Regions from separate parts of the Homo sapiens genome. Here regions 2, 3 and 4 are each linked to region 1. The links come from fine-mapping of genetic effects on gene expression. A gene starts in region 1. Each other region holds a variant in brackets. All regions are shown on one strand. Distances are from middle to middle.

Region 1 (5,230 bases):
GAAGGAGTATACCCCAGAAGGAGGGGGTGAGCCCATGGACTTCCAGCTTAACCCTAGATCTGCAGTAAAAGCAGTCAAATCGGTTCTAGGCTCCAAGTTTAATGGTCAAGTTTCTCAATCCTGCCCAAAATCTGAATCTAGGATAGGTGTCTGCTGTGGCCTACATGTTTGTGTCCCCCAAAGTTAATGTGTTGAAGCCTAAACTCCAATGCAACAGGATTAAGAGGTGGGGCCATTGGGAGGTGATTAGGTTATGAGGACTCCTGTCGTGCCCTTATAAAAGACGCTTCAGGTAATCTATTTCCCCTTCTATCCTGTGATGATACACAGAAGGCACCATCCATGAGGAATGGAACCTCACCATATTCCAAATCTGCTGGCACCTTGCTTGGACTTCCCGGCTTGCAGAACTGTGAACAATAAATTTTTATTGTTTATAAATTACCCAGTCTAAGATACTTTGTTATAGCAGCCTGAACATAATAAGACGGTGTCAAAAGTAGACTCAATATCATTCTTTAAATGGGCATTTCCCTGTGTGTTCCTAAAACCAGGCTTTCTACAACAGAGGCAGTACGTTTACTCATTGAGCACCAGGGTGCTTGGATTCAAGTTTTGGCCTGGCCATTAGGTAGGTGCATGACCTTGGTCAAGATGCTTCACTTGCTGTACTTCAGGTTCCTTATTTATAAAATGTGGGTAATAACTGTAACTGCCTCATAAAGTTGTTCTGTGGATTAAATAAATTTATATACTTAGAACAGCGCTGTTTACAGAGTTATGTGTTTAATTATAATTTTGACTAATGAGCCTCAAGAAATATAGGAATAGAAGAAAAAATATTAAAATAGTCCTAAAAGAAATACTGGTGCATTTGGAAGACTGAAAGAGAGTATCATCAAAGTCCATAAAAAGGGAATTATAAGCCTTATAAAACTCCTTTGAAGCAAAGGATAACAGAGGTTGAATAACTTTAAGTAGGTTCAATATTGATTGATTGAATGATTGATTGTGACAGTCTCACTCCATCAGAGGCTGGAGTGCAGTGGCGCCACCTCGGCTCACTGCAACCTCCGCCTCCCGGGTTCAAGCGATTCTCCTGCCTCAGCCTCCTGAGTAGAGTAGCCGTGACTGCAGGCGCGCAACCCCACGCCGGGCTAATTTTTGTATGTTTTTTTTAGTAGAGATGGGGTTTCACCACGTTGCCTAGGCTGGTCTTGAACTCCGCCCTCCTCGGCCTCCCAAAGTGCTGGGATTACAGGTGTGAGCCCCCCCACCTGGCCCCAAGATTAATTTAGATAAATTCTTAGAGGGTGAATGCATAGTTGGTTATTGGGAAAACTGTTAACGGTCTGTGATACATAATTACTTTTCTGAGGTGATGGGGAACCAAATTCTTCCTACAAATGAGAAACAGAACTTCTTGTCTACACATTAAAATGACTTTGGAAACTTAGAAAAATATCAATGTCAAGATCTGGCAGCAGACCTTTTTCAACCAAGTGATGAGGCCCAGGCACTTGTTTTTTTATTTTTATTTTTTCCTAAGGGTGCCCCAGGGTTTAGAAACAACTAAGTCAGATATTTTTAGAGTAATTTGTCTTAACTCTTTCATCTTGCGTAAAATTTCCATTCTGTCATCCACAACCGGAATTCCACTCCGTCATACCAGTCTCTCCTCGTTTTTTTCTGCTGGCTCTTTTCAGCGTGTTTCATCGTGGCTGCTGTCTGTCTGTTACAGCCTTCTCACGTGGGAGCCCCTGCCCCGCCCCACGAGAAAATACATGTTTATCATTCAGTAAGTATTGCGCAAAATCGTAACAGAATAATTACTCGCGCCAATTCCCCCCAGATTAGATCAGCAGAAACACTTGGGCTAGAACTACCTCAGGACTATCTAACAAGTGGATATACCACAGTGGCGTGGAGAGCTGCAGTGTTATGTGTTGGCCAAATGAAGTAAAGACACCAAGTAGCTATTAGGCGAAGAACGAAGCGTCTTCGCGGCAAGTCGGCTGTCTGCTTTAAATTTTCTGAATCCTTAATGTTATCAGTATTATTTATTTCCCCCGAGAAACAAAATCTCCAAATACCAAGAAGCTGTTCTGTATTGCCAAAAGCTGCATAGGGGCAGGCTGCCAACAGGACTACCCGGGCACGCTGCAGTGGCATCTCTAGGCAGTTTCCTTTAATCTGATTTTCCTTGGGCTAACTCCTCACTGCGGTGCTGCTCCACAGCCAGCCCCCGCGCGCAGCCCTCCCCGCACCAGCTCGGCTGCAGAGCGCGGGTCCGCCGCCCACGCCGCCTTTCAACCGCAGTGCGCGGCCCGGGCCTTAGACGCGCGTGCGCGCGAGCCGGGGAGGGCGGGCCCCAGCCGGAGGAGGCGGAACAGGGCCTCGCGATATGCAGCCCATTGGCTCTCTCCTGCAGTCCCCGCCCCCGGGCGTTCGAGGCGGCGGGGCGGGCCACGTCAGGCAGCCGGCGCTGGGCTGAGCTTGTGGCAGAAGGGAGGTAAGCCGTGCGGGGCGGCGGGCTGCCACCGCTGCACCCCTGCTCGGGAGCCGCCGGGTCGCGCCGCCTGCGGCCCGGTCGGCTTGCATGGAGGGCGGCTGAGGCCCTGCGGGGCTGGGGCTGAGCTGGGAGACGGGGCAGTGGAGCATGTGGCGGCAGGGCCGCGTCGCGGCGAGGGGCAGCCGGGAGGGGGCTTTTTGCCCTCGTCCGGTCCTGCTGGGGCTCTCAGCTTCTGGAGGACTAGGCCTTCTGAGGTTACGGAGCTCCGAGATACCTGGGCAGGGCTGGCTGTGGTGACTGCGGTGGGACTTAGTGGGATCTCGACTCGGAAGCCGGTCGGCGCGATCCTTGCATACTTAGCTGCAGCAGGTTGCAGTCGTCCCACTCTCCTTCGACCGGTTCCCTAGTTGGGGGCAGAGCAGGAGATTCTGGCCGCGTCCTGCCTGGCCTGGGGTGACTGTCTCCTTCTCATTCCCGGTGACTCACTCAGATCATGTCCACTTATAATGCAAAGGCTTATGGGTGAGCAGGGCCTGTTTTCAGTCTCCTAGTTCTCTGGCTCCGTCCGCACTTGCGGCAATTACTTGAAGAAAGAGTATGTTAGATGTATGTTTTGAAATTTTCGCAGCAGCTAACGCGTGGAGACGTGCAGTTATGTTGCATTTACCCTTCATGAGTTTTAGTTTCAGCTGTGGCGTCCTGATATCTCAGTGTGGTTCCTGAATTTGGAGCTTTTGAAATGAATGAAATCCTGCCAATTTCATGCAGTCATTCATTCATACATTCCAAACTTTTTTGATGGATGCCTTAATGGTCAGCCTCATACCAGGTATTAAAATCGGCATTTCCTGCGTTTTATTCCAGTTTATATGTTAGTTTTATTGTCTAGATTTGAGTTGGAAATTTTTTTTTTTTTTGTTATTTTCAGGTTCTAGTATCCCTGAAACCATCGTGGCTCTGAGGGTGTAATCCTGATAACTGTATCAGTAATGACTCCAGGTTTCAGTGGCCTATCTGTAAGAAGAGGAATGGGATTAGTATAATTTTGAGATTTTCCAGGAGAGGAGGGTAGATGGCATGTTTCCTGAACTGTGTTAACAGGAAGTAACTATTTTAAAAACACAGGATGCATTTTATGATTATGTTTTACTGTGTCAACGAACATTGTATCTGTCCACATTCACTTTTTGACTACCAAGCAAGTGCATGTTTACAATTTTGATTCACATCCAATTCCTGCGTAGAAAGCACTGTGACTCATCTGAATTTTGAAATGAAGTAATCATGAGCTTTTTAATGTTACATACAAAGGTATGATATTGAAACAATTGCATAAAAATGCAATTTTCAAAGCATTTTCACTTGCTTTTATAGATTAGTGGAAGCTAAAACCTCTGCCTTGATTATTTGCTTACTTAATCAATGTTAGGTAGTTACCATCTCTTGGCTAATGTTTATCAATATTATATCTATTTTAACATTTGTTTCATTAACCCCAAATTTACTGGATTTTAACTGATTGTTGTCTCCAGTTGACGCCTGATAACCAAAAGGTTATCAGGAGGAGCTGGAGGAGGCGGAACACAGCCTCGCGCCCTGTAATAAATAGTTTGAAATCAAAATTTTCATGGACGTATAACCAGAGTTTTTCATTTGTTGATTGATTGATGGTGCTTACCGGTAAATCGTTTGGCCTTTTTCCCCGTTTAAAATGATTTATGAAACAGTCTGAGACATAATATTCTTAGCTTCATGATACTTTTGGGATATTGTCCACAAGTGATTAGTTGAATTAAATTGTTAATATCACTATTAGGAGTTTGGAAAATTTAAGAAAATATAACTTCTTAAAATTTTGCATTTGCTATTTTTTTGTTTGTTTGGAGACAGGGTCACTCTGTCGCCCAGGCTGGAGTGCAGTGCTGCGATCTCGGCTCACTGCAACCTCCGCCTCCCAGGTTCAAGTGATTCTTCTGCCTCAGCCTCCTAAGTAGCTGGGATTACAGGCGCATGCCACCACACCCAGCTAATTTTTGTATTTTTAGTAGAGACGGAGTTTCACCATGTTGGCCAGGCTGGTCTCGAAATCCTGACCTCAAGTGATCCCTCCGCGTTGGTGTTACATCTTTCAGTTCTAGAAATGGACCTGATCAAGATTGCAAGGTTAATGGGGAAAATTCAAGAGCTGAGGACATTAACCTTCTAGCGGGAAAAAACCACAATGAGAAATAATAACTATATTTGGAGGAAGTGTAAGGAAATAATAGTTTAAGGATTATTAGTCTATAACAAATCTTGATCTTAATCAGTATTTCTTGATGTATAACAAAGAACTTGGTTTAAGCACAAAAAGAAAATTAGGGTGATAATTTAAATTTTGATCAAGTGGGTAGTAAGTATTTCTTTAGGAGATGAGAAATCTATAGATCTAGAGATGCATGGTATAATAAAGTATGGTATACTTATATGAGTATAAGTCTGTGATTCACAATTAGTAATAGATTGATGGAGGTTTTGTTACTATTTCCACATGATAAGAAACAAGATTTGCTAAGCTGATAGGACAAGGGATATTTGTGAATTTCCTCCATGTAAATGATTTGAAACAACAAAGTTTTAAGTGATGTGGAAGAGCCCATCTATTTTCAAACAATGGATTGAAATGTAGTTTTTGTAACCCTCTAAGTACTTCTGGCCTCATAGTTTTTTTTTTTTTTC
Region 2 (5,230 bases), 32 kb before region 1:
AAACAGTATAACTGGATTATAGCCATAGAGAAGAGCTTTCTTACTTTGTACCCCTTTTACACTTTCTGTTTCATGTGAATGTATATAATTCTAAAGTGTAAATATAATTAAATTTTAAAACATTACCCCATTTTCTCATTTATACAGCAGTTATTTGCTTATTATAGAAATGATAAAATAACTCTAAGGCTGCAACCTAAATAATGATTTTGTCTGAAGCAAAATATGAGCTTGGTGCTACCTCATAAATGGCAGCACAGTACAAAAGTCCTGGAGGGCAGAAAGTGGGAGGACTGGGAGGTAGAACAGAAGTCACACTTAAGGCATTAGTCTCCCATTTGGGAACTCAAACACATAACGTGGATTTTCCAATACCAGACTTAGTTATCTTCAAAAGTTGTTAAACTAATGTCCCGATGTAACCAATATCTCTTTGAGATATAAGCATGAAACAGTTCTATGGCTTCCAAAAACTACCACCACTGTGCTCAGTTGAAATGCTCTTTGTCATTGACTGGCTTTCCTCATCAATGTCTTATCCCATAATGATTAGTTACTCTCAAATATTTATTTATTTATTTATTTATTTATTTATTTATTTATTTATTTATTTGAGACAGGCTGTCACTCTGTCACCCAGGTTGGAGTGCAGTGGCACAACTGTAGCTCACTGCAGCCTCAATCTCCCAGGCTCAAGTGATCCGCCTGCCTAAGCCCCCATTGACCATCCCGCAGCTCCCCACCTCAACCTGAGTAGCTGAGAGTATAGACACGTGCCACCACACCCAGCTGATTTTTGTATTTTTTGTAGAGATGGAGCTTTGCCATGTTGCCCAGGCTGGTCTTGAACTCCTGGCCTCAAACTATCCTCACGTCTAGGCCACCCAAAATATTGGAATTACAGGTGGGAGCCACCGTGCCTGGCCTACTCTCAATTATTAAAGTCATCCCCTTTAGGCTGTAAAGTGCTGTTTGCTTTAGTTTATCTTACAATATTTACAATTCTTTTTGTACCACATGACTCAACATGTACAAAGTGCAAAAAGGCTCTATAAATTAGCCAGGTGTTTTGGCACATGCCTGTAATCCCAGCTACCCAGGAGGCTGAGGCAAGAGAATCACTTGAACCTGGGAGGTGGAGTTTGCAGTGAGCCTGGATTGTGCCACTGTACTCCAGCCTGGGCAGTAGAGCGAGACTCCATCTCAAAAAAATAAACAAAAAAAAGCCTCTATGGTGAAGAGACTTCTTCCCATCCTTTACTCACAGATCTTTCCTTTACTCTTGGTTATGAAGGTTATGCAGTGCACAACTCTAGAAGGCTCGATACACTTTGCATTTATAACAGTATTTCTCAACATTTGATGCAATTAAAAAATAATTGAGAGTCCTCTTTAAAGGTAGATTATGATTCAGTAAGTCTGGGATAGAAGCTGAGATTCTGCATTTCCAAAAAACTCTCAGGTAATGCTGATGCTGCTGGTCTGGAGACCACACCTTTGAGTAGCAAGAGCCTATGTAATTGATGCCTCTGGAAGGTTGTAATTCCATCATGTGTGGCCTTACATGGAAGCCCTACGTTGTTTGCCTCCCCCAAGGTTTGCAAGTTTTATTTTATTTTATTTTATTTTATTTATTTTATTTATAATGGAGATGAGGTTTCTTTCACTATGTTGTCCAGGGTGGTCTCAAACTCCTGGGCTTAAACAATCCTCCTACCTCAGCTTCCTGAGTAACTGGGACTACAGGCATGAGCCACCATACCCAGCTCCCAAATTTTCAATATTCTTCCAAACATGTTCTACGTGTATGTAAGCATATACATACATAAATATATATTTAATTATATACACATATGATAGCATATTACATACATTGTACTACATTTTGTTCTCCACCCATTACCCTTCCCCAACTTAATATGACTTGGAGCCTGTTCCATACTGGTAAGTGTAGAGCTGCCTTGTCTTTTTAGTGATAAAATATTATTACATTGCACAGTGTAACTGTCCTTTAGGAAATGAGTTTTCAAATGGCAGGAAAGCAGGCGACCCCTCTGACACGCTTGGTCTCAGCTCTGCCTCCCTCTCCCTCTGACACTTGTCTTCTTGTTCCAGCAGCATCTGGCCTGACACATCTATCCCACCTCTCCCCCATTGAAGAGATAAAAACGGGAAGACATGGTTACACCACAGTTCTGTACTTCCCTGAACAGATGACCAAGATTAGTCAAACCTTGTATGTAAGTGTCTGGTGCTACAGCCGGCAGTTTACTGACTTAATATATTGCATCTGTTTTCAGCTATGGGGTCCAAGAATATATAAAAGATACATCTAGGCCCTGTTCACCACCATTTTACATATACTAGTTATGATCCATTTGGCATACCTCTCTCCATTTTTTTTTTAAGATAGGATCTTGCTCTGTTTCCCAAGCTGGAGTGCAGTAGCATGATTCCAGCTCACTGCAACCTTGAACTCCTGGGCTCAAGTGATCCTCCCATCTCAGCCTGGAGTAGATAGGAC[T/C]ATACCCAGATAATTTTTTTTAATTATTATTTTTTGTAGATGTGAAGATCTCACTGTGTTGCCCAGGCTCATCGTGTAATCCCGGCTTCAAGCTATCCTCCCACCTTGACTTTCCAAACTTTTGGGATTACAGGCATGAATCATTGCACATGGCCATGTTATATTTTATATTCACCATTATTATATTATAATTATGTTATAATTATAATATTTTATATATATAATATATATTTATATAAAATATATAATATTATATATATAATTATTTTTATAATTATATATAAAATATAATTATTTTTATAATTATATATAAAATATAATTATTTTTATAATTATATATAAAATATAATTATATTACAATTCACCATTTTATATTCAGTTATTATTACTATTGGTGGGGTGAAAGAAGAACTATATATTTCTTATGTTCTTTCAAGAACCTTTACTAATCTATTTGTTAGTAATAGCATTGATAAATTATTACAGAGAGATGGATAAATCATGTGCCAATGGGCTAAAATATGGATAGGGCCAGATTCTAGAATGGCTCTATTAGTAGTAAAATTCTGGTATTCAGAAAATCCTTTAACTTTGCAGTGCCCTAGTATAGAACCATTAGCTGAGAAACAAAAGTATACAGAGAAAAGAGTTAAGATTACTAAGGTACAGTATTATTTCTCATTCATTATTACCTTTTAATATATTAACTCTGGAAGTTTTTTCAATCTGATGGTTTATCATTTTGGCTGATTAGAAGCATACCTTGGACATATTACAGGTTCAGTTCCAGATCACTGCAATAAATATCAGAATAAAACAAGTTACAAGAATTTTTTTTCCCAGTGCATGTAAAAGTTATATTTACATTATACTGGAGTCTATTGAGTTTGTAACAGTATTATGTCTAAAAAAAAGTACTTACCTTAATTAAAAACACTTTATTGCTATTAATAAAACACAATATTTATTAATATATTACTAATAAAAATGCTAATAATCATCTGAGTCTTCATTGAGTTGTAATCTTTTTGCTGGAGGAGGGTCTTGCCTCAACGTTGATGGCTGCTGACTGATCCGGGTGGTGGTTGCTGAAGGTTGGGGTGGCTGCAGAAATATCTGAAAACAAGACAACAATGAAGTTTGCTGCATCAATTAACTCTTTCTTTTGCAAAAGATTTCTCTGTAGCATGTGATGCTGTTTGATAGCATTTTACCCACAGCAGAACTTCTTTAGAAATTGGGGCCAATCCTCTCAAACCCTGCTTTCTTTGCTCATCCATAAGAAGCAACTCCTCATCTATTCCAGTTCTATCATGAGATTACAGCAGTTCAGTCATCTTTAGGCTCCACTTTCTTTTTTTTTTTTTTTTTTTTGAGACATAATCTCACTCTGTCGCCCAGGCTGGAGTGCAGTGGCAAGATCTCGGCTCACTGTAACCTCCGCCTCCTGGGTTCAAGCGATTCTCCTGCCTCAGCCTGCTGAGTAGCTGGAACTACAGGCGTGTGCCATCACGCCCGGATAATTTTTTGTATTTTTAGTAGAGACGGGGTTTCACCGTGTTAGCCAGGATGGTCTAGATCTCCTGACCTCGTGATCCGCCCACCTCGGCCTCCCGAAGTGCTGGGATTACAGGTGTGAGCCACCCGACCCTAGGCTCCACTTCTAATTATAGTTATCTTGCTATTTCTGCCACATCTGCAGTGATTTCCTCTACTGAAATCTTGAACCCCTCAAAGTCACCCATGAAGGTTGGAATCAACTTTTTCTAAATTGTTCATGTTGATATTTTGACCTCTTCCCATGAGTCACAAATGTTCTTAATGGCATATATAATGGTTAACCCCTTCCAGAAGGTTTTCAATTTACTTTGCCGAGATCCACCAGACAAATTACTATCTATGGCAGCTGTAGCTTTACAATAACGATAGTAATAATAAAAGAGTTGAAAACTGAAATTACTTCTTGATCCGTGGGCTGCGGAATAGATGTCGTGTTAGCAGGCATAATAGTAACATTCATCTCCTTGTACATCTCCATCACAGCTCTTGTGTAACCAGGTACATTGTCAGTGAGGATGAAAGGAATCTTTTTTTTTTTTTTTTTCCTGAGCAGTAAGTCTTTACACGGGGCTTAAAATATTCGGTAAACCATGCTATAAACAGAAGTGCTGTCATTCAGGCTTTGTGATTTCACTTATAAAACAGTGGCAGAATGGATTTAGCATCATTTTTAAGGGCCCTAAAATTTTCAGAATAGTAAGTATGCATTGGTTTCAAATGAAAGCCATCAGCCCCTAACAAGAGGGTCAACCTGTCTTTTGAAGCTTTGAAGCAAGGCACTGACTTCTCCTCTTTAGCTATAAAATTTCTAGATGGCATATTCTTTCAATGGAAAGGTGTTTCATCTACACTGAAAATATGTTGTTTAGTGTTCCTCCTTCATCAGTGATCTCAGCTAGATCTGGATAATTTGCTGCAACTTTTACATCAGCACTTGCAGCTTCACTTTGCACTTTTATGTTTTGAAGATGACTTCCTTCTTTAAACTTCATGAACCAATCTGCTAGCTTCTAAATTTTCTTCTGCACCTTCCTCATGTGTCTCAGCCTTCATAGAATTGAAGAGAGTTAGAGCCTTGCTCTGGATTAGGTTTTGGCTTTAGAGAATGCTGTGGCTGGTTTGATTTTATATCCTGACCGCCAAAAC
Region 3 (5,230 bases), 430 kb after region 1:
AAGGTCATTATATAATGTTAAAGGGATAATTTCATCAAGAGAATACAACAATTATAAATATATATGTACTCAACATCAGAACACCAAAATATACAAAGCAAATATTAACAGATCTGAATGGAGAAATAGGCAGCAATATGATCATAATAGGAGACTTCAATACCCCATTTTCAACAAAGGATGGATCATTTTGAATGGTTTACAGTAAACCAATGAAGAAGCAAATTTAAAAGATTGAAATCATATCAAGTATCTTTTCTGACTATAATAAAAAATAAAAATAAATTAACAGGAGGAAAATTGGAAAATTTACAAATTGTATATATTATATATATTAAATTATATATATTATCATATATAATATAATGTATTATATATGATAATATATATACACAACATACTCCTGAATAACCAAGAGGTTAAAAAAGAAGTCAAGAAGTATTTTGAAGCAAAAACAGAAACACGACATTGCAAAATTTAAGGAATGCAGCAAAAGCAGTTCTAAGAGGGAGGTTTCTAGTGATACATGTGTACATAAGAAGGAAAGAAAGATTTCAGATAAACCACTTTTCACCTCAAGTAACTAGAAAAAGAAAACAAAGCCCAATGTTAGCAGAAGAAAGGAAATATTAAACAGAGCAGAATCAAATGAGAGAATAAAAAGAAAAATTTTAAAAAATCAACAAAACTAAGAGTGGTTTTTGAAAAGATAAACAAAATTGACAAATGTGTAGCTAGACTAACTGAAAAAAAGGTGGGGGGTGGGGGAGAGAGAGAAGATTCAACTAAAATTATAAATAAAAAAGAGACATAACAACTGATATTTTAGAAATATGAAGGATCATAAGAGGCTACTATGAACAATTATATACCAACAAGTTGAATAACATAGAAGAAATACAGAAATTCTTAGAAGCATACTGTCTACCAAGACTGAATCATGAGAAATAGAAAATATGAACATGGCAATAATGAGTATGGTGTCATAAGCTTTACCTTAAAAAAATTTCTCTTGAATATATTTGGATAAGTGGCACTAATCTATTGTATTGCTTCCAAATAACATTCAGATTAATGCATTTTTATTTCATAAATTCAGGAATAATTTTTTATTCACTAACTTCTTGGTCATTCTTATCAATTTATATATGAACATAAATTAACACGCACGTCTACCAATATCATATCTGTTACACAAACTATGCTGACTAAAAATGTGACAGTCCTAGTTAGAACTGGCAGTGAAGAGTAAAATCAGTTAAAAGTATTATGAAAAATTTTAAATAAAAAATTAAGAGAAAATTTAAATTTCTTTTAAAAAAGGAATTGTTTTAAAATTAATAATAATTGGAGAATTGAATGCAGTTAAAACATCAAAAACATATATAAGTAACATAAAAAGTAAAGCAGAAACCAAAGTTGAGAACTGAGCACATAATGGTGAAAATAATAAATATAAATTGCTTAAGCTTCTGTATTAAAACAAAAAGTATTGATTGGAATAGTGTCAATAGGATTGGTATAAATTCTTTTTTGAATGTCTGATAGAATTCAGCTGTTAATGTGTGCGGTCCTGGACTTTTTTTGTTGGCAATTTTTAGATTACCACTTCAATCTTACTGCTTGTTATTGGTCTGTTCAGGGTTGCTATATCTTCCTCGTTTAATCTAGGAGGGTTGTGTATTTCCAGGAATTTATCGATTTCCTATGTTTTCTAGTTTATGCACATAAAGGTGTTCATAGTAGCCTTGAATAATCTTTTGTATTTCTGTGGAATCAGTAGCCATATCTCACATTTCATTTCTAATTGAGCTTATTTGGGTGTTCTCTCTTCTTTTCTTGGTTAATCTAACTAATGGTCCATAAATTTTATTTATCTTTTCGAAGAACTAGCCTTTTGTTTCATTTATCTATTGTATTTTTTTGTTTCAATTTCATTTAGTTCTCCTCTGGTCTTTGTTATTTCTTTTCTTCTGCTGGGTTTGGGTTTGGATTGTTCTTGTTTCTCCAGTTCCATGAGGTGTGACCTTAGATTGTCTATTTGTGCTCTTTCAGACATTTTGATGTAGGCATTTAATGCTACGAACTTTCCTCTTAGCACCACTTTTGCTGTATCCCGGAAGTTTTGATAGGTTGTGTCACTATTATCATTCAGTTCAAAAAATTTTTAAATTTCCATCTTGATTTCATGGTTGTCCCAATGATAATACAGGAGCAGGTTATTTAATTTGCATGTATTTGCATGGTTTTGAGGGTACCTTTTGCTGTTGATTTCTAATTTTATTCCACTATGGTCCGATAGAGTACTTGATGTAATCTCAATTTTCTTAAATTTACTGAGACTTGTTTTATGACTTATCATATGGTCTATCTTGGAGAATGTTCCATGTGCTGATGAAAAGAATGTATATTCTGCAGTTGTTGGATAGCATTCTATCCTGTATTCTATAAATATCTGTTAAGTCCATTTATTCTAGGCTATAGTTTAAGTCCATTTTTTCTTTGTTGACTTTCTGTCTTGGTGACCTGTCTTGTGCTGTCAGTGGAGTATTAAAGTCCCCCACTATTATTGTGTTGTCATTTATCTCATTTCTTAGGTCTAGTAGTAATTGTTTTATAAATTTGGGAACTCTAGTTTTAGGTGCATATATATTTAGGATTCTGATATTTTCCTGTTGGACTAGTCTTTTT[A/G]CCATTATATAATTTCCCTTTTTGTCTTTTTTATCTGCTGTTGCTTTAAAGCTTGTTTTGTGTGATGTAAGAATAGCTACTTCTGCTCACTTTTGGTGTCTATTTGCACGGAATATCTTTTTCCACCCCTTTACCTGAAGTTTATGTGAGTCCTTATGTGTTAGGTGAATCTCCTGAAGACAGCAGAAACTTGATTGGTGAATTCCTATCCATTTTGCCATTCTAATATTAGTACTGAGGTGTAAGGGACTATTCTATTCATCAGCCTGTTTGTCGCTTAAATACCTTTTTTTTTCATTGTGTTACTGTTATATAGTTCCTGTGAGATTTATGCTTTAAGGAGGTTTTAGCTTGGTGTTTCAAGGATTTGTTTCAAGATTTAGAGCTCTTTTTAGCAGATCTTGTAGTGCTGGCTTAGTAGTGGTGAATTCTCTCAGCATTTGTTTATGTGGAAAAGACTATCTTTCCTTCATTGATGAAGTTTAGTTTTGGTGGATACAAAATTCTTGGCTGATAGTTGTTTTTTTTTTAAGGAGGCTTAAAATATGACCCCAATCCCTTCTAGCTTGTAGAGTTTCTGCTGGGAAATCTGTCGTTACTCTCATAGGTTTCTTCTTTACAGGTTACTTGATGCTTTTGCCTCACAGCTCTTAAGCTTCTTTCTTCATCTTGACTTTAGATAACCTGGTGACTATGAGCCTAGATGATGATCTTTTTGAGATGAATTTGTCAGGTGTTCTTTGAGCTTCTTGTATTTGGATGTCTAGGTTTCTACCAAGGTCAGGGAAGTTTTCCTCAACTGTATTTTCAAATATGTTTTCCAAACTTTTAGATTTCTCTTCTTCCTCAAGAACACCAATTATTCTAAGGTTTGGTCATTTAACATAATACCAAACTTCTTGGAAACTTTGTTCTTTTTTAAAATTCTTATTTATTTGCCTTAGTTGGATTGGGTTACTTCAAAAACCTTGTCTTAGAGCTCTGAAGTTCTTTCTGTTGCTTGTTCAATTCTATTGCTAAAACTGCATTTCTCTAAGTGTGTCCTTGATTTCCAGAAGTTGTGATTGTTTTTTATTTATGCTATTTCCCTGAAGATTTTCCTTTCATATTCCATATCATATTTTTTATTTCAAGGAGCAGAATACTATTTTTGGATGTCTTAACACAGGAAAAGGAAATAGAACTCTGTGTGCCCAGTTCCTTTACCTGTAAAATTAAGATAACCATAGTCCTACCTCGTAAAATTGTGGCAAGGATTAATTGTTTAATTTATATAACACACTCAGAATGATTCCTGGCACTTAACTAAGGGTACTTAAACGTTAGCTCTCCTATTTGAAACTGATTGGAGGATTATTCCCTAATGTGCTAGTTCTGCAGGAAAGTGAGTTAATTTCAAGAAAACTGGCCAGGGAACATTTTAATGCCAGCTCAACTACTCACAATGGAGAGGCAGAAATAGCCATTCACTTGGTGACTGAAGCAAGCATGTTGCAGCAAAGATCCCAGGGTATAGACAGAAGCACTGCTACCTGGCACACACACACCAGCTGTCTACAATGGCACACTTTACTTTCCTGGTTTCTTGGTTCTGTCTACCATTTGAGGAGCTAAAAGCTTTCACCAGAATAACACAGGCATCTTTCAGGAAGCCAGAAAAAGGATCCTGTGCTCTGTGAAGATAAGCTGCACTCTCCTCAGGCACGTGCCAGGCAAGAGAGGAATCCCCGCTCCATTCTTCAAATCCAATTTGTCAACTCACATTTAGTTCCCTTTTCACTTGTTGCATCATTCTTATTGTTATTTTTGCACCATCCGGTTCACTGTACAGTCCCTGTGCAGTCATTGTACAGTCCCTGTTTATCTATGATGAAATAAAACTGCATTTAGTTGTAAGTTTTAATGGTATGAAGGGTTTTTGGTTTAACTTTAAAGAAGTGCCAGAAACTGCTTCAGAGACAGGAAGCTCCTGCAGAAAACCGATAATAGACATGTTCACCTGTTTGTGGAGGGAATGGAGCTGGTGCTTATTCAGCAGCTGCTGTGTGTTGTCTGTGTATTCTCTTCTTAACTCTAGGCCTGGCTGCATTTATGCCTGAGAGTGGTTGTGAGGATTAAATACGTCCAGCTCAGACAAGTGCTTGATACCGAAAGAGAAAAGTAAACCCAGGCTGGAGGCTCACTGAAGTCTGTATTGGATAGAGCCAATGTGGAGTTTCTCGCAGAGGGAGTCCAGGTAGCACCTGGTAGAAGATGTTGGGTGGGCAGCTGTAGGGGCCAGGGGAAATCTTGCCCTTTGACCTCTGAAGGTTCCGTGAAAATCAATTGACAAAAGGCAGATAGATTAATAGGTGAAAAGGCATACAAATTAATTTTATCATAGTTTTATGTGTCATGGGAGCCTTCAGATTGAAGGGCCAAAGACACCATTTCTATGCTTAGGTTAATGAAGAATTGGACAGCTATGTAGAAAAATGACTGGATAAAAAGGGCATGATCTAATGCTAATAGACTGAGTGAGGAAGCCTAGCAAGGCCTG
Region 4 (5,230 bases), 540 kb before region 1:
AGAAACGAAAGTCCTGCCTTTCCAAAATTGAAAATTCCAAACTCTTTCCTCTACCGCTCACCTGCTTTCCCTCACCTCCAATTCAACCACCACTCAAATCAATCTCCTTGTCTCGCCTCCTGAAAAACTGAGGCTACTAACCATGAGCTCCTTTATCATCTCTCCTCTCCTCCTCAGAAGATTTCTGTATCATCACTTATATTTTATGGCTTTGGGAGCAGCAAAACCAGGGTTCAAATGCCTGATCCGCCCACCATGTAGTGGCTGTGTAAGCTTGGGCAAGTTTCCATGTCTACAAATTGAAAACCACCATTTCTATGCCACAGGACAGCTGGTATAATTAAGAATGAATACAGCACTTGATGAGGCTCACCTGGTAAGAGATAGAGGCAAGACAGCTGTCTTTCCTCTATCTCTTCCATGTCTCAGCAGCTTCCCCGGCCTACGCTCGCTGTCTTATTTCTCTCTACTCTGTGTAGGGACTTGATCCTGCAGTTAGCCCCCCTTACTCCAAGACCATTTGTGGTCGTCTCATTGTTGTGGTTTTACCCTTAAAATCTATCAAGCCTCTAATTCTCCTATCCCGAATAATCCCTCTTGAGCTACAACTCTCTTGGCTTGGTCTCATATTTCACTTCTGAAATGACTGTGAAGAGTCTTCTGCTACCAGCTGACGGTATGTCACAGCCTAACATCTCCTTAATTAACTGTCATCTGGCTGATATTCTGATCATTCTATAATACTTGAGAAAGCCCTGCCTCATGATCTAGTATATCACCACCACACACCCTTTCTAAGACATCTCTTTGATACTTGAATCATGATGCTGCCCTTTCTAGAAACGACGCTACTGCAGGGTAGCGTCCTTATGCTCACTCAAGCCCTTCCATCACCCCAACCTCTCTTTCTGCACCTAATACGCTATAAAGATAAGATTAAAATAATTTAAAAAGGCGGGCCACGGTGGCTCACGCCTGTAATCCCAGCATTTGAGAGGCCAAGGCAGGTGAATCACTTGAGCTCAGGAGTTCAAGACCAGCCTCGCCAACATGGCAAAACCCCATCTCTACTCAAAACACGAAAATTAGCTCAGTGTAGTGGCAGGTGCGTATAATCCCAGCTAACTGGGAGGCTGAGGCAGGAGAACTATTGGAACCTGGGAGGCAGAGGTTGCAGTGGGCCAAAATTACACCACTGCACTCCAGCCTGGATGACAGAATGAGACTCTACTGAAATAATAATAATTATTATTATTTAAAGAGTTCGATGATGAAATAGGTGTAGAAGACTTTGCTTACTATTTCCCTTTTTAGAGATTCTTACTGTATGTTAACAGATTAAAGGCTCTTCGAAGAGTTCTGCAGGAAAGAATACTTACCTGCTCAATAATTACCGATTGATTAGTAACACCCATGAAGTACTTACTTTTATTAATATTTGACTTTTTATTGTACAAATGTCTCTTCAAGTTGTTCCTAAGCTACTAGCAAATAAAATTTGTGTTACGTATTTTTTATTTGCCTCCCAAAGCCTGTTTTCAGACATGGACATAGTATTAATATATATCCATTATAAACCAGACTGCAAGGTCACTTAAATATTTTTGTTTTTTAAAAAATTAATTTACACTACGTTTGTCTGAAATGAACAGGAAAGCAATGAACGATAAAGTTTCTACGACACAACTATTTTCTTTGGCTCTCTCAAATGCCTCATTTCTCCATGTCTTTTTTAATTTTTATTTTTATTTTGTTTTTATTTTTTTGACATGGAGTCTCACTCTGCAGCCTGGGATGAAGTGCAGTGGCACAATCTCAGCTCACTGCAGCCTCCACCCCTGGGTTCAAGAGATTCTCCTGCCTCAGCCTCCCAAGGAGCTGGGATGACAGGCACCTGCCACCACGCCCAGCTAATTTTTGTATTTTTTGTAGAGACGGGGTTTCACCGTGTTGGTCAGGCTGGTCTCGAACTCCTGACCTCAAGTTATCCACCCACCTTGGCTTCCCAAAGTGCTGGGATTACAGGCATGAACCACCGTGCCCGGCCTTTCCATGTCTTATACGACCTGAAGAAGGAAGGAGGTCATCTGCTGGAGCCAGGGGCCATGCTCGCTCCATTCAATGCATGATCACATGTAAGCTTTCTGTGAAACAGATATGACTATACACATTTTTACCAATTATAAACTGAGGCTCAGAGTCACCCACCAATGAAGTGACAGAGTCTGCATTCAAATGTAGGTCTGCTGATTCTAAAAATCTGTGATTTTTGCACAAAATGGCAGCCTTTACCAATAGTGAGGTGAGTGGAAGTGACATGCAAATGCAGCAGGTGGGAAAAGAGAGTGCCCAAGAAGAGAAAACTATTTGTCCAGTGGCTGGAATGATGAGCCTTTGCCAAGAGCATTGTGAGGCAGAGAAATTATAGCTACCAGCTGCCAACTCCCAATCTTGGGCCATAGAGAAAAGAGGAGAAAAAGATACAGAAGAAAAGGAAAACTGAACAAAGAAACAAAAAGTAATATGCTCAAATTGCCTCAGCTGCTGCAAAGCTATTTGCCCTAGGGAAAAAAATAGACTGTTTTTCCTGCCTTGACTTAGTGCTGATCACCTGGTATCATGAAAATTCGACCAGACTATGCCAGGCAGTTTGTCTACTGCAAAAGATGATGAGAGAAAAAACTATAAGCTTCCATTGGAGCCACAGACTGTGTTTTATACTTTTCTCCCATGTCTGTTTCTGCTTCCTAACAATTAAATACATGAGTGTTTATTGAATGCCATTTGAATGAATGAATGAAAATAGGTTTATGTCAGAGAGCTATTTAAATTCCCTACCACTCCTTAATTAGTTACTGCAGCCACAAAACCTTTGAGAAACAAGGCAGGTATACATTTATAAGTAAAATTATTTCCAAATTGGTATTCTGAAAAGAAGAAATATATTAACATTGCTTGTGGGTGGTTTAGTACATCCATCATCAAAATGTCAATATTTATACACATATGACTCTAATATTTTGATGGTGCGTTATCATAACATCTAGAATTCACTCAACACTGCC[G/A]TGCCTTCCTGACCTCTACAGCAAATCAAACTGTATCTTGTTGATCTATGTTGAGTGCAAGCTCCACTGATGGAAATAATCTCTTCCTCTACAAGACAGGGGTAAGGTTTCCTATATGTTACATGGTAAGTAAAAATCCAGTACAACGGGAAGCAAATGGCTTGGTGGCCACTCTTCACTAGACAATAGGAAGATAAGGACAGAAATAAAAGAAGAAACCCTTTGTTCTTGGTGCTTTTCACAGAGGATTCTTGGACCCTCTATGAAAACCCAACTCTCTGAGGCTTTTTCTGTGAAATCACTGGCAGATAGGAACTTTTCAGCTAGCACATGTCAAAGCTTCTGCCAGGAATGTAAACTGTACAATAATTTTTTTATGTCTTTAGACACCTAAAACAGAAACCTTAAACACCCAAGTGTCAAAATAAGACAGATAACCCAATAAATTTGCTAGAGCAGGGACAGGGAAAACAAACACAGCCTTCTGTTATACGGATGTCTGTTAGCTCGCTCCGACCACTAGCCTGAAACCTTAGCCTGCCACACGTCTTTCCTGTCGGGCTGTTTATTTAGACTCCCGTAAAGCCTCTCGGCACCCATTTTTAATTTTCAGCTTGCTTCTTGTCAGCTTTCTGAAAAGCATAGCAAGATCCACTGTTTAACAAAAACACACACAAATCAGAGGAGGAGGAGATGGATGGCAGAGGGTAGTGGGTGCAGGCATCCCCCAGTGCACTGTGGGGGGACCACATTCCTGGTCCCATTTGTTTGTAACAGAGGGCAAGGGTTGTCAATCGGGGTCATTCAATCTTGCATGCTTGGATTTAACTATACGGCTGTCCTCATAAGAAAGGTTTGCCTCGTTCGGTGCTATATTCTGCATTCATTCATAAAACACTCTGTAAATGCTCTTTGGAAATGTTAGTTTAAAAAAAAAAGAAAACTTCAGTGGTGCTAGTTCATTTCATTCTGATAGTTTTCTATTCTTGATTAGATGGCTTGAAGAGGCCTCAAGCAATAATCCTGTCCTTCCAAAGAAGGATAATAGACTTTTGAGTTTAAAGATGATCATCAGATATGTTATTTTCCTTAAACGCACCTGATAATCCACCGAGCAGCAACTACTTATCAAGTAATTGTTACAGGCAAAGTGCTGTAGTTAGACCTGAGTAGAGAAAACGTATTTTGTGAACCAAAAATTGGAATTCAGGATTTCATATGGAATAACTGTGGCAAATTCCAACTCAAGAGGCAGTCAGGGAGCTGCAGTATAGGTGCCCCCAATACTGGAATTTATAGGCATTTTGATAACTTCAGCAGGGGCAATATTAAAGACTATTTAAAAGTGGGCTCGTTGCTCTATGAAAGCAAGCCTTATGGTCTGCAAAAGTAAGGGTTATAGTGGGGGATATAACATGGGGGATATAACATTTTTTCATCTCTTCACTGTCTCTCCACTTTTACCCCCATGCATTTGGAAGCAATCTCTCAGTTTCCTAGAAGCCCATAGGATCAATTTATATTTTTTTAGTAGTCATCGATCTCAACAGTGAATAGTAATTTATTCTCGATTATAGTGATTTTCCTAAGAATGTAAGATTTTCAGGAACTGGTGGGCAAAGAAAGAAAAGAAAGGAGTTCTTTTTTTTAAAAAAAAGTAAATTGCTCCTATGATTCCATCACATGTATGTGTGTGTGTGTGTGTGTGCACGTGTGCAATTACACATATATACAGGAAGAGGCAAAAGTCCCAGGTCACATCCAACATATACAATCCTACCCCTTCCTCAGGGATAACCACTGTTAACATATAAAAGCACTATTTTCCTGGATTTATTCTGTGCTTAAATTTGATATACAAGCACATATATGTATATGTGTATATGCATATATGTATATGTCATATACAAATAGCCATACATACATGTATTTCTTTTTCACAAAGATGGGATTCTGCTATATATATAGATATAAAATTTGTTTTTATAATATAATTTGGTTTTATATTAACATTTTATTTTGTATATCTTGTCAAGTCAGTACATATTTTTCTATGCAGTCTTGCTAATGGTTGCATAGTATGGCATTAAATAATTATAATATCTTTTATTTACCCAATCCCCCAACTGATGAACACATAGCTCATTGCCAATCTGGGGTATTAA

Direction of the effects. Positions count from the first base shown, and alleles are read on the strand shown. Sizes are in standard deviations (SD) of each study's normalised expression. Not every link is listed here.
For the expression in lymphoblastoid cells of the gene that starts at base 2,478 in region 1, allele A in region 3 goes with a higher level than allele G (large effect, 0.89 SD a copy in TwinsUK).

The links. PIP is the estimated chance that this variant, and not a neighbour inherited with it, causes the effect. A credible set is the group of variants that fine-mapping cannot tell apart.
Region 2: its variant is the best candidate, but not a certain one, in a credible set for the expression of FOCAD in whole blood (INTERVAL, PIP 0.83).
Region 3: its variant is the best candidate, but not a certain one, in a credible set for the expression of FOCAD in lymphoblastoid cells (TwinsUK, PIP 0.72).
Region 4: its variant is the best candidate, but not a certain one, in a credible set for the expression of FOCAD in nasal epithelium (TOPMed, PIP 0.62).

What each region holds. Positions count from the first base shown.
Region 1 is chr9:20,681,782-20,687,011 of GRCh38, forward strand. It overlaps FOCAD (focadhesin), which reads left to right and starts at 2,478. Exons shown (of 44, transcript NM_001375567.1): 1 at 2,478-2,512. It overlaps FOCAD-AS1 (FOCAD antisense RNA 1), which reads right to left and starts at 2,969. Exons shown (of 2, transcript NR_121601.1): 1 at 2,787-2,969; 2 at 1,521-1,760. RefSeq lists a silencer at 2,081-2,780 and an enhancer at 2,180-2,920.
Region 2 is chr9:20,649,939-20,655,168 of GRCh38, forward strand. No RefSeq gene overlaps it. Among named protein-coding and RNA genes, the nearest start is that of MLLT3, 30 kb to the left of the region's middle. The variant T/C (reference allele first, on the strand shown) is at 2,525.
Region 3 is chr9:21,114,806-21,120,035 of GRCh38, forward strand. No RefSeq gene overlaps it. Among named protein-coding and RNA genes, the nearest start is that of IFNW1, 24 kb to the right of the region's middle. RefSeq lists an enhancer at 4,186-4,445. The variant A/G (reference allele first, on the strand shown) is at 2,692.
Region 4 is chr9:20,140,849-20,146,078 of GRCh38, forward strand. It overlaps a transcript of SLC24A2 not described here. Among named protein-coding and RNA genes, the nearest start is that of MIR4473, 270 kb to the right of the region's middle. The variant G/A (reference allele first, on the strand shown) is at 3,066.